2 separate regions of the Homo sapiens genome follow, and region 1 is linked to region 2. The links come from fine-mapping of genetic effects on gene expression. A gene starts in region 2. The other region holds a variant in brackets. All regions are shown on one strand. Distances are from middle to middle.

The links.
Region 1: its variant is fine-mapped to the expression of SYT13 in thyroid (GTEx, PIP 0.97).

Annotation. Positions count from the first base shown.
Region 1 is chr11:45,213,661-45,219,036 of GRCh38, reverse strand. All of the region lies in intron 5 of PRDM11 (PR/SET domain 11), which reads right to left. Among named protein-coding and RNA genes, the nearest start is that of PRDM11, 70 kb to the right of the region's middle. RefSeq lists enhancers at 1-31, 5,093-5,376. The variant A/T (reference allele first, on the strand shown) is at 2,730.
Region 2 is chr11:45,283,674-45,289,049 of GRCh38, reverse strand. It overlaps SYT13 (synaptotagmin 13), which reads left to right and starts at 2,709. Exons shown (of 6, transcript NM_020826.3): 1 at 2,709-3,025. The coding sequence starts at 2,843. RefSeq lists an enhancer at 2,528-3,314.

The sequences.
Region 1 (5,376 bases), 70 kb after region 2:
CAGTGGGGACAGGGGAGGAAGGTAAATAACAGACTACAAAAGGTTGACAACCACTGGTTAATCTTACTAAATGATTTTAAGGTAAGGAGACTGAGGCTCAGAGAGGCCAAGCAACTTGCCCAAAGTCACACAGCTAATAAATGGGAGATGGAGCTTTGAGTCCTATGCACGTTTCCCACTGTAACTCATGGCTCCTATGTGGGCATGTAAAGCACCAACTCGGCAATGCCCAGAAAACCTTTAAAGTTCTGTCAAACCCTCAGAATCTATGGCCCTCGCCCATTCTCACTGAAACAACATGTGCGACATCCAGCCCACCACCCTACCCACCTCCAAAAGGTGGGATGAGGGAACACCTGCCGAGGAGTGAAGGTGTACAGATCAGAGGGCAAGAGGAAATTAGTTGACGTTTTAGGGTTCTGAGCTACACAAGCACCTAGGAAATTTGTAGTAAAAAATAAACTTCTTTATGTTATGGTTTGTCTCAAAAACAAGGGACAAAAATCAAAGTCTGTCTGATTGGTGTAGCCCAATGAATTATATCTGGAAAAGTCCAGGGGAAACAAAAATTCACAGAAGAATTCAGATGGATAATAAACAAATGAAAAGTATTCAGCATCACTAATAACAGAAACACAGCGTAGTACATTGTCTCATTGGCACAGATTTCTAAAAGATGATAATATCTCTATTGGTAAAGGTGGTAAGAAAGGTGTCTCCTGTACTGATGATGCAGAATTAACAGGTGCAACCCTTTAGGAAACAATTTGGCAATATGGCTCAAGAAACATAAGTTATGGATGAAGTATGCAAACCCGGCATACCAATATGCTGACTTGTATCATTGTGTATAGCAGTACAAAGGCAAAACATTTAAATGTCTAATACTAGATAAGATTTCGTAAATGATGTTACATTTATATAATGGAATGCTATTCATCTATAGAAAAATGTTTTCAAAGAATCTTTTATGACATGGAAAAATGGTGTTGAAATAAGATAGTGTGAGAACAATAGGACTGGAAGTAGACTATGGTTCCAATAATGCTTTAAAAACAAGCCCCAGTAAACGACTTGAAGGAAATATACCAATGTTTTAACAGTGACAACCCCTTACAGGTGGATCATCTTTGTAATTTTGCATACTTTCAAAGTTTCCCTCAATAAGCAACTATTACTGTCACGCACCTCACTCCTGACACACATATAAAGAAAAGAAATATACGAATGCCAATTCCAGTATGAGGTGACAGTGGTGGCAGCTAGCAGCATGGAGAATCTACATTCTAGAGGTCCCAGGGATGGCACCAGCTGCCCCTCATCTATATCCTGCCTTGCTCATCTGGAGAGCCTGGGAGGAGGCTGTTGCCTTCCAAGGAGGATCACTGGAGTCCAGGGAACAATCCATTCTGGCAACAGGATGCTGCAAGACCTCAGAAGGAGTAAGACCAAGGCAGATGGGAGAGCAAATGCTGGCTTTGGCTGCTTCAACCTTTTGAGAGAAGCAAGCCACAGGCTCCACCATGGAGGTGTAGAACTTGCAAGATTTACGGTGCTTAGATCCGCCAGAATTTGCATCTTGTCCTAGGTCTGTGTTCTCTGTTAGCCCCAACACATCGGTGTTCTTATCACATCGGATATAAGCATCGCTATCCCTGAGTAGTGAAGACCACAGGGTGATTTCCACGCACCCAGCCAGGATGTTATTAACAAAGGACTTAAGAGAAAGGAAAAGAGCCCCTTTTCCTTTAATTTGGAGTGAGAGAAGTCACTCCAAATTAATAATTCCCAATCTCAATTCTACAACTGTGAGTCAGTCTTTTCTCCATAGCTGAGATTTCTTCTGAATATGCAAAATATTTCCAGTCCCCAATTTAGTGAGAGTCTAGGATTTGACATCCAAAAATAATCAACCTTGCGGTTAGCACAGAATAGAAGTTGTTCCAAACTTTCCTGCTCCCAGATACAAAAGGGAAACCATTCATTCGTCTTTTTTCTCACAAGACTCACTTGAATCATAGCACTATGATTGGAGAATACTGTCTTCTCCTTTTTTTCTTCCAGTTTCTAAACAACCACCAACCTCTAAAAGCTAGAATTATTTCTCTGACACTTGACATCAAGAGAAAAAGCTAGATGAGAAATACATTCCTATCTGGGATTTATTTATTCAAAAGAGCAACTTCTAGGGTGTGTCAAAAGGTTTAGAAAGACTCAAGTCAATTTAACTTTCCATCTTCTGGTCTTTTTCTATCCATCAAGAATCAATATTTGGAAAGCTAACCTCAAGGCGTTGTATAAATCACAAAGTATTTTCAAAGGCAGATCAATGCTTATTCAGATTTTGTTGTATTTGTTGTTCTGAAACTTAGCATTTGAAATACAATGTATATGGCAACTCTTGGTGAATCACAACCCATTCCCCTGACAAGATGTTTATGTTATACCATTTAAGAGGTAAAGCTAAATGAAGCCAGCTAGGTCCCCAGACCTGTTACCTCTGATTAGATCTCCTGCTTTTAAGTGTTTTGCCTTAACACCTGCTGGCTCGACCACCCCCCAGAACCCTTCTGTCCCCATTCACAACAACCCCTTTATGAAGAACTGTGCCTGTTCCATTCATTACATGGCTGCAGAAATCAGAAGCCCTCCCCAAGGAGTGGAAGGCTACCAGGAGGGGCAAAATCTATCCACTGTGGCTGAGCAGCTCTTTGCAAGGAGGTTTGAAG[A/T]GTTACCAGGTCACTACCTCTTGAGAGAAGGCACAGAGAATGCCTGGCTGAGACTGTTCTGCAAATGCTAGTGCTTATTGAGGCATTTCAACTCCAACCCACAGAATTTGGGACCTTTGGAGCAATCAAGGGGAAGGTGGTGGTGCTGCTGATGGCGGTGGAGAGCTCTGGACTAAACCTGTCATGATGATCCTGGATTGTTTTTATTCCAACCTCCCAGCTGACCTTGGGGACTGGATAGGTAAGTACTAAGACAACAATTCTCAGACCTCACCCACTGTGTCTTATCAAGTGCATCATATTTTCTAGCTGGGTCAGCACATGACTATTGTTTCTAACGCAAAGAAAACATAACACAGGGCATCCATTTTGCTGGAGGGAATTGACTAGGCCAGGCTCAGACACTATTGCATAGTGGGTATCTTCAATACAAAGGAAGCTGCCCCAGTTAAGGAGGCAGAACTAGGAAAAGACCGACTGAGAAGAGGCTGGGCTCTGTGTTCTCACATGCATAGGTCTCCGGGCTAGGAGGGGCTTTGGGTCACACATCCACCCACCAGATGGTCACCTGGTCATGGCTAGAGGCCTCCCTCTTCCAATTCATTTCTGTCTCTCACCCAAGTTTCCTCTTCCTGTTTTAATGTGCTAGCCCAACAATCCCCACTGAAGCCAAGAAACAGAAACTGAAAATCTTTTCCATCCCAAGTTGACAAGTCCTCACTGTCCCTTTTGCTCTGACTTCCATTTCAGTTTTACAGCTTCCAATTTGGCTCCTTCCCTCCCCAGGAAGAGAGAGAGCAGCCAGCCAGTCACTGCTTCATACATTGACCTTGGGAGAGAAGGCCCTGGGAATGGTTTCACGACATCTTTGCATCTCTCGGAAATTGGGTAGTCCTCCATTTCTATGGCCATGCTTTTTGGCCAAGAACTGTGGAGGATGGCAAGTTAGAACCTTCTAGAAAGGGGATCTGTGGGCAAGACTAGGGGATTTCCTGCCTGAGAGAAGCTCTCTGAGACTGGTATTAAGCCAGGGCAATGCACAGGTGAGGAGGCTTCCTCTTGGCAGAGGAGGCAGCTTTGGTTACTTTGAGAAGCCTCAGATCTAGGTGGGCAGAGCCTTGCCAGTGCCAGACACACAGACACCTGGATTGGTGGGGAGGGTCATGCCTCCAGGTGGCCCCTAAAGTGCACTGGCACATGGACAGCCCCTGACCCTTCTAAAGCCTCCTGTCCGAAACGGTGATTGTTTTTCCAGAACTTCTCGCTTACTTTTAGGGAACAAAAGGTAAAATTGACTTAGCAACACCTCACTTTTGAGCAGAGAAATGAAATATAACTGAGTGGTTTCGTGCATGCATGCCCTTCCTTTCCTCCGAGGGCCTGGCATGGTGCTGGATACAGGGAATCTGGCAGTTTATAGAATCAGGGAAATCAAGGGGCACTTGAGCCCTTCTCACCAACCTGCTTTTCCTTAAACATCTAACCCCTGCTTTGGGGTCCTCGAGGTTTTCACAGGAAACGAAGAAAGAGAATACACACCAAAGAAAGATCCTGGACACTGGGTGTGTTCAAAGAGTGAGATTGATTTCTTTTTATTGCCATCTTAACAAAAATACTTCGGAAGGCAATCTTTGATTCCAGCATCGGAGGCCGGGCAATTCCAGGCAATAATTAAGCCATCAGGCTGTTGGACAGGAGAGTGTTCAGTTTGAGGGAAGCAGGAACCCCCAAAGAACCACAGAATGGGGAGATGGAGCCAAAGGCACAGGGACATTGCAGTCACCTTCCATTCTCCCTACGTGGGACAAAGCTTGGCTTGGGTTTACAAGCAGCGCTCCAGGAACAGCCTTGGAAGGCACTAGATGCTGCAATCCTCCCAGCTCCCACTATGGCTGGGGGCAGGATGGGAGGGTGGGGGGTTGTTGGGTGGAGGGGTTGGCTGGGGGACTTCTGCTGGGGTCAGCTTCAGGTCAGGGAAAAAAAAGGACACAGAGCTGAGGTGCACCCAGGTCAGAGCTAAGCTTGTATCTGCCACCTGCCACTTCCCTCTCTAATGCTAAGAACCCAGTTTTCTCCCCACACTCCAACATGAAACATGAAGCTAGAGGTGTATGTAGCTAGTGCGTAGGCAGCCCGAGCAAGCAGAGGCAAGGCATGCTGGAACCTGGAATGGGACATGAGCCCCACTGGGCTCTGGATTCTTTTAGAAGCCAGGGAAGAGGTTGCCCTCCACTCCTGAGATCTGGCCCTGCCTCTCCAAGCCACTGGCTATGAGCCATAGAGCCAGGGCAGGGTGGGAGAATCACCTGCTAAATGCTAGGTGCCTCCCACCTCACCCAGGACAGCTGAGGCAGAAGCAGAGATACAGGGGGCAGAGGCCTGGCAAGGGGCAGAGGCCTGGCAAGGGGCAAGACCTGCCCCCTGCCTCCTCTTCCCACTACTCCAGATCTGGCCTCTGACAGGGGAGCTGGGAAAACCGATACCCTGGCTTCCAGTCCTGGCCCTCTCACTAACTGGCTGTGTCATTTGTCTTATACAGATGATGATGATAAAAATGATCATAATAATACCTGACTTGGCTGTCTTGAGCTGACTGTCCTGAGCCCCCACTGAGACCACCCAGACTCTGCAAGGGCGAGGAAAAGCA
Region 2 (5,376 bases):
GCCTCGTAGATGCCTCCTAAGCATCTTGCTCTGTCTGCTCTTAGAAATGTGGCCTCAGCACTTCCAATTATTTGTGGGTCCCAGCCTCAGACTGTCTTAACTGATCCACTCAGCTGACTCAGTTAACTGCCTTTCCCAATAGGCATACTCTCATTTTTCAAAGGAACCTAGTGATGCCTTTTTTCTGTGGGTTGTCATTAAAGGCCACTGTCTGCATATCAGTAGCCAAGAAGCAAACATCGTATCTTTGATGAGATATATGAGGGTGACTGGTTGGGTAGCAAAGGTAGCCCAGAGTCCTGATCACTCAACTGGGCTTTGGATCCCCTGGGGTCTATTCCTAGCTCTGCCATAGGTTCACTGTGTGTGAAAGAGGCACAAGGCAAGCTCTTCTTCTTGGGCTGGGGTCCCTCTTCCTGTTATAAATGAAGGCCACTGCAGCTGCTGTCATCCCAGTAACCATAGTAACAATGGATCATGTGACAGGTGTCTGATTCCCCATCAGACATTTTCTGATATTAAGTGTTCTTCATCCTTCCCCTTTAACCCCACCCCAGATCCTGTTATGAGTAGTGGCATTGATGGTCTCCCAGGGCAGCCGTTTGAGCATGGGAGACCTGGAGCTGACAGCATTAATTAAACCTCTATTTCCACAAAACATTTTGCATTGCCAGGCCCGGAGCCAAGAAAACCTCCCAGGGCAGCTCTTATGTGAGAGATTGCTAAGGCTGTCACCAGGGACTGCAGTGCTTCAGCTCTACAGTTTGCAGCAAATGGGGATCAGTAGGAAAATGTGCCTGGCATACAGCAGGCACACAATAAATACTTGTGGAAAAGTCAGTTTACTAAAATGGAGCTCATATCACAAATGGGATTCCTTCAAAACACTGGAAATTCTGCATAAGATGATCATATGAATTATTCCACGGTTACTGAGTGCCTGCTATATGCACCCATGGGTGATAACATGGAGACTCTAAAGATGTTAGCTTGTTGAAGGAATCCCAAGTCCATGGGGTGGCTGAGGCTCAGGGGCACATTGGGAAGTGTGTAGAGAGGAGTCTGGAAGGCTTAGCAGGGACCACATCACAAAGGGATTTGGATAAAGGTTGAGTCTCTTGGGTTTATTCTTGGAGAACCTTTGAGAGCTGTGAGTGACATGATCAGCTTTGTATTTTGGACACCTCCTTTTGATGTCACTGAAGGAAAGAACTAGAGGGAGACTATTGTTTTGATCAAATAGTGTTCTAGAATTTCTGAACCCAGGCCTTAAGACAACTGGCAGCTTCTGCTTCATTCCTCTTAGAATCCAGCCAGCATGCTGTGAGCAGCTCCAGCACCATGGAGAGGTGACATAGAGGACAACCAAAATGCACCAGCTGACAGCCCCATTGTGATCCCAGTGGCAGCCAGCACCTACTGCTCACCACGTGAGTTCACCATTGCACCATCTGCAATGGTGTCTGGAGAGCTGATGTCCCAGTCCAGCTGAACCCCTAGATGACTGCAGTCCCAGAAGACAACATGTTGAGCAGGAAAACCACCCAACTGAGCCCAGCCAACCCATGAAATCATGACAAGTAACACAATAACTGGTCTAAGCCAGTAAGTCATCGGTGGGTTTTTATGCAAGTGTAGATAGCTGAAAAACTGGAGGACGGGTGGGTTCCCAGGTGGTGGTCACAGCTACAGCTCAGAGGAAAAGGTCTGGCTGGAGAGGCTATAGATTTAGGAGACATTGGCTCATAGAAATGTGAAAGCTCTGTTGTGGATGAAATCACCTACATCCCTTTTCACACATGCCCAGCACACCTAGAGCACAGCCAACCCACAGCAAATATCTGCTGAATTAAATTCAACACTCCATATAATGAAGAACACTAAAAAGCCACTGTTTTCTTGAGCTAAGACAGTCCTCATGCCCGGAATTCTAATTTCCCCTTGTTCTAAGCATAGTTTTATGCTCACCCTCTCTGAATCAAGTGTGTACTCCTAGCTGCTGCATTTTATCTTCTTTATCCTCCTAAGACAAGTCCGTTTGAGTGTGGACTTGGAATCTGCAAACATAAGCTTGGGTTCAGGGTGATGATTTTTCTACCTGTGCACCTCTCTTCTGAGCCTCGGCTTCCTCAACTATATATAAAGGTGCGAATACCTGCTGATTAGGTAATAAAGGTGAACTCTTGGGCAACCCTTAAGGGGATGCAGCTGTATTGTCCATCTTCAGCAGGACACAGGTACAGCCTCAACCCAAACATCCCATCTGTTCCCTCTACCTGTGGCCTGTTCCTCTTCCCTGTAAGAACCATCTCCCAGGTTGGGGAGCTGGGAAATCTCCAGCTTTGTGTTTGAAAAAGCTCCCGGAAGACCCAATTTTACAGCCAGCTTGGCCAGCTGCTGGGGTAGAAGGGTGAGCAAGGAGCTAGTAGTCTGGGAAAGTGACTCCTAGAGTCGCAGATCTGGTTGGAGCCCAGGTTTGTCCTCTAACACAGTGTGACCTCCGCAAGCTCCAGCACTTCTTGGGCCCAGTTGTCCCCTGTTGTACACAAAGCATTAAGAATGGCCTGAAACAACCCCAAGGCTCCTTCCACCTGGAAGGCTCCGGCTCCTGTTGGGGTGGGGGTCCGGTCACGTGTTGGCGGGGAGGGGGTTGCCGGTTGACGTGGCTGCGGGTCCAGCCTCCTCTGACGTCCTCGCAGCCGTCCTCCCTCCCTCCGTCCCCGCCCCTCTGGCGGCGGGAGAGCTGCTGGCTCGCCCGGATCCCGGGAGCTGCCTGGAGGCGGGCCCGGCCCGGGGAAGGTGAGCGGCTGCGGGACCCAGCCCCTCGCCGGGAGCGGGCACCATGGTGCTGTCGGTGCCTGTGATCGCGCTGGGCGCCACGCTGGGCACAGCCACCAGCATCCTCGCGTTGTGCGGGGTCACCTGCCTGTGTCGGCACATGCACCCCAAGAAGGGGCTGCTGCCGCGGGACCAGGACCCCGACCTGGAGAAGGCGAAGCCCAGCTTGCTCGGGTCTGCACAACAGGTGAGCGGGGGCGGCGCGCAGGCCCTTCCCGGGCAAGGCGGGGTTGCCGGGCAGCTGCAGAGGGGGAACTGGGGTGGGAGGCGGTCGTGGATCTTTGCGCGACAAAGCTTGGCGGGGAGGGGACAGCAGACGCGTTGGAGGACAGGTCAAGGAGTCAAAAAGGTAGGGGGATGGGGGAGGCTAGGGGATGGGGGAGACGAGACCTGAAGGAGAATTAGGGAGCGGCGAGCTTGTGGGGACTGAGAGAAGAATGGGGGCCAGCAGCGAGACCTAAAGGGAGGGGACAGGAAAGGGGACCTGGATAAGAATTAGGGCTGGGAAGGGTAAGAGGAGAGGGAGGCTGGGAGGGGAATCGCCAGGGTTAGGGAAGACCCTGAGAGGTACCAGAGAATGAGGAGTTTGCAGAATTGGGAAGAAGACTGGGGTCTGTGAGAGGGAGATGGGTGGTGGTTGTGGAGCCAGGGTAGGGCAAGTCCTGCCAGAGCTGAGAAGAGGTAATGCCTGCAAAGCCAGAGGGGAGGTGGCCGCGGTCCCGCAGGAGCTGGGAAGCTAGCTAGCGGGGTCTAGAGAGCTGAATCCGGGAGGAACCTGAAGGACTCTTCCCCACCCCCTAGCAGCTCTGAGCTCCAGCCAGTCAGAGGGGGTTGGTATGGCCTCCCCCAAGATGTCTCTGCAGACGTCCCTGGAGACAGGAGGGCTTTTATCCCATGCATTTGCTCATGGCCAGAGCCCCTTCGTGCAGGAAATAGCCCGTGCTCCCATTGTAAAGAGCAGCAGAAGGGGTCTGGGGAAGCAGTTTGGAAGGATTTCCCTGCATAGGCTGTGACCTCCAGGATGCATTTCCAAAGTACAGAATGCAGAATGTTCTCTGGAGAACCAGGAGGCAAAGAGTCCTGCTAGAGTGATTTGAGGAAGGATGGCCCTGGGGCAGGGGCATGACTTAAAGGACCTCCTAAAGGCCCTCTAGATCCCTTATAGACTGTATGGTTCCAGGAGTGGCACTAAAATGCTGTGACTCCATCTTCCTTTTTCCAATCAATAATTCAAAAGCTCAGAGGACCCAGTTGTGTGGGGCCTGTGTCAGTCACTGTACAGTGAGAGTGGAAAGGAAATGGCTGCTGTCCTTGAGGCACTTATAATCCAAGAACAGTGACATTGACAGTGGCTAAATAGGAGCCGGCTGCACAGCAGAATGTGGGACTTGGGACGATCTGGAAAAGGGGAATAGTGGGCTTTCCACTGGCCAGGTGTTGGGAGTCCTTCTCCACAAGTCGTGGTCGGCCGCCTCTCAACCTTCTTTCCTGCCCAACACACTTGAGGAACAGCCACTCTTCTGCCTTTCAGTGATGTCTCTCCAGGCACCGCCCCCTCCCCTTCCTAGAGAGAACCACTGGGAAACTAGTTGGTGTAAATGACCTCTAGGGTCTCTTCCAACTCTTTGTCTTATTGATGACCAGTAGCCCACAGAACGGCTGATCATCTGTTAAAGAAAAACCAGGTTGTGTCTCTCCCCTGCTTCAAATCCTCCACAACTTCTCACTGAGCTTGGAAGAGGTCATAGCAAACCATGACATAGCATACACTGTGTGCCAGGCGCACTGTTCAGAGTACACTAATTAATGTGTTTCTTGACCCAGTGAGGGAGCCATAGAATGATCCTAACTTAAAGATGAGGAAACTGAGGCTTAGAGAAGGTAACTGACTTGCCTAGAGCTGCACAGCTAGAGAAGTTTTAGAGCCAGACTCTAGCTGAGCTTGTCTGATTCTGGTGGCCACACTATTAGCCACTCCTCTCCACCCACTCACCTGCTTTAACATGGAAGGTGCCTGCCTCTCCAGCCAAGCTCATGCCAGTTTCTTTCTTCATCAGCAGTCTTGGCTTCCCTGGATTTACGATCATTCTTTTAAAACACCAAGCCCTTTTCTGCCCCTTCATTTTTCTCTGGCCTTTCATACAAATGGCTCCTTCTCATCCTTCAGGTCTTTTTCCATTTAAAGTCTCAGGGAGGATTTTGCCTACTGACACATAAAACAAAACACCCTCTTCCTGTTATTCTCTCCCATATTGTTTCTAACAAATCCTTTTATGGCACTCTTTACATTAGGATGCAATCTTTCATATTCACTTACTGGTGTATAATATTTATTCCCAGCACCCTCTCAGTGCCTGGAAAGTAGTAGGTGTCCAATAAGAAATTGTAGATGAATAAAGTCATCTCAGGGGTCATCCAATGGGGATTATCATCTTCAAATACTGGTGCATGCACCATGTCTTTGTAACCATGTGCAAGCTCAATAGGGGCACAATAAATATTTGTTGATACATGATACCTGCCCATCCACATTCCCTT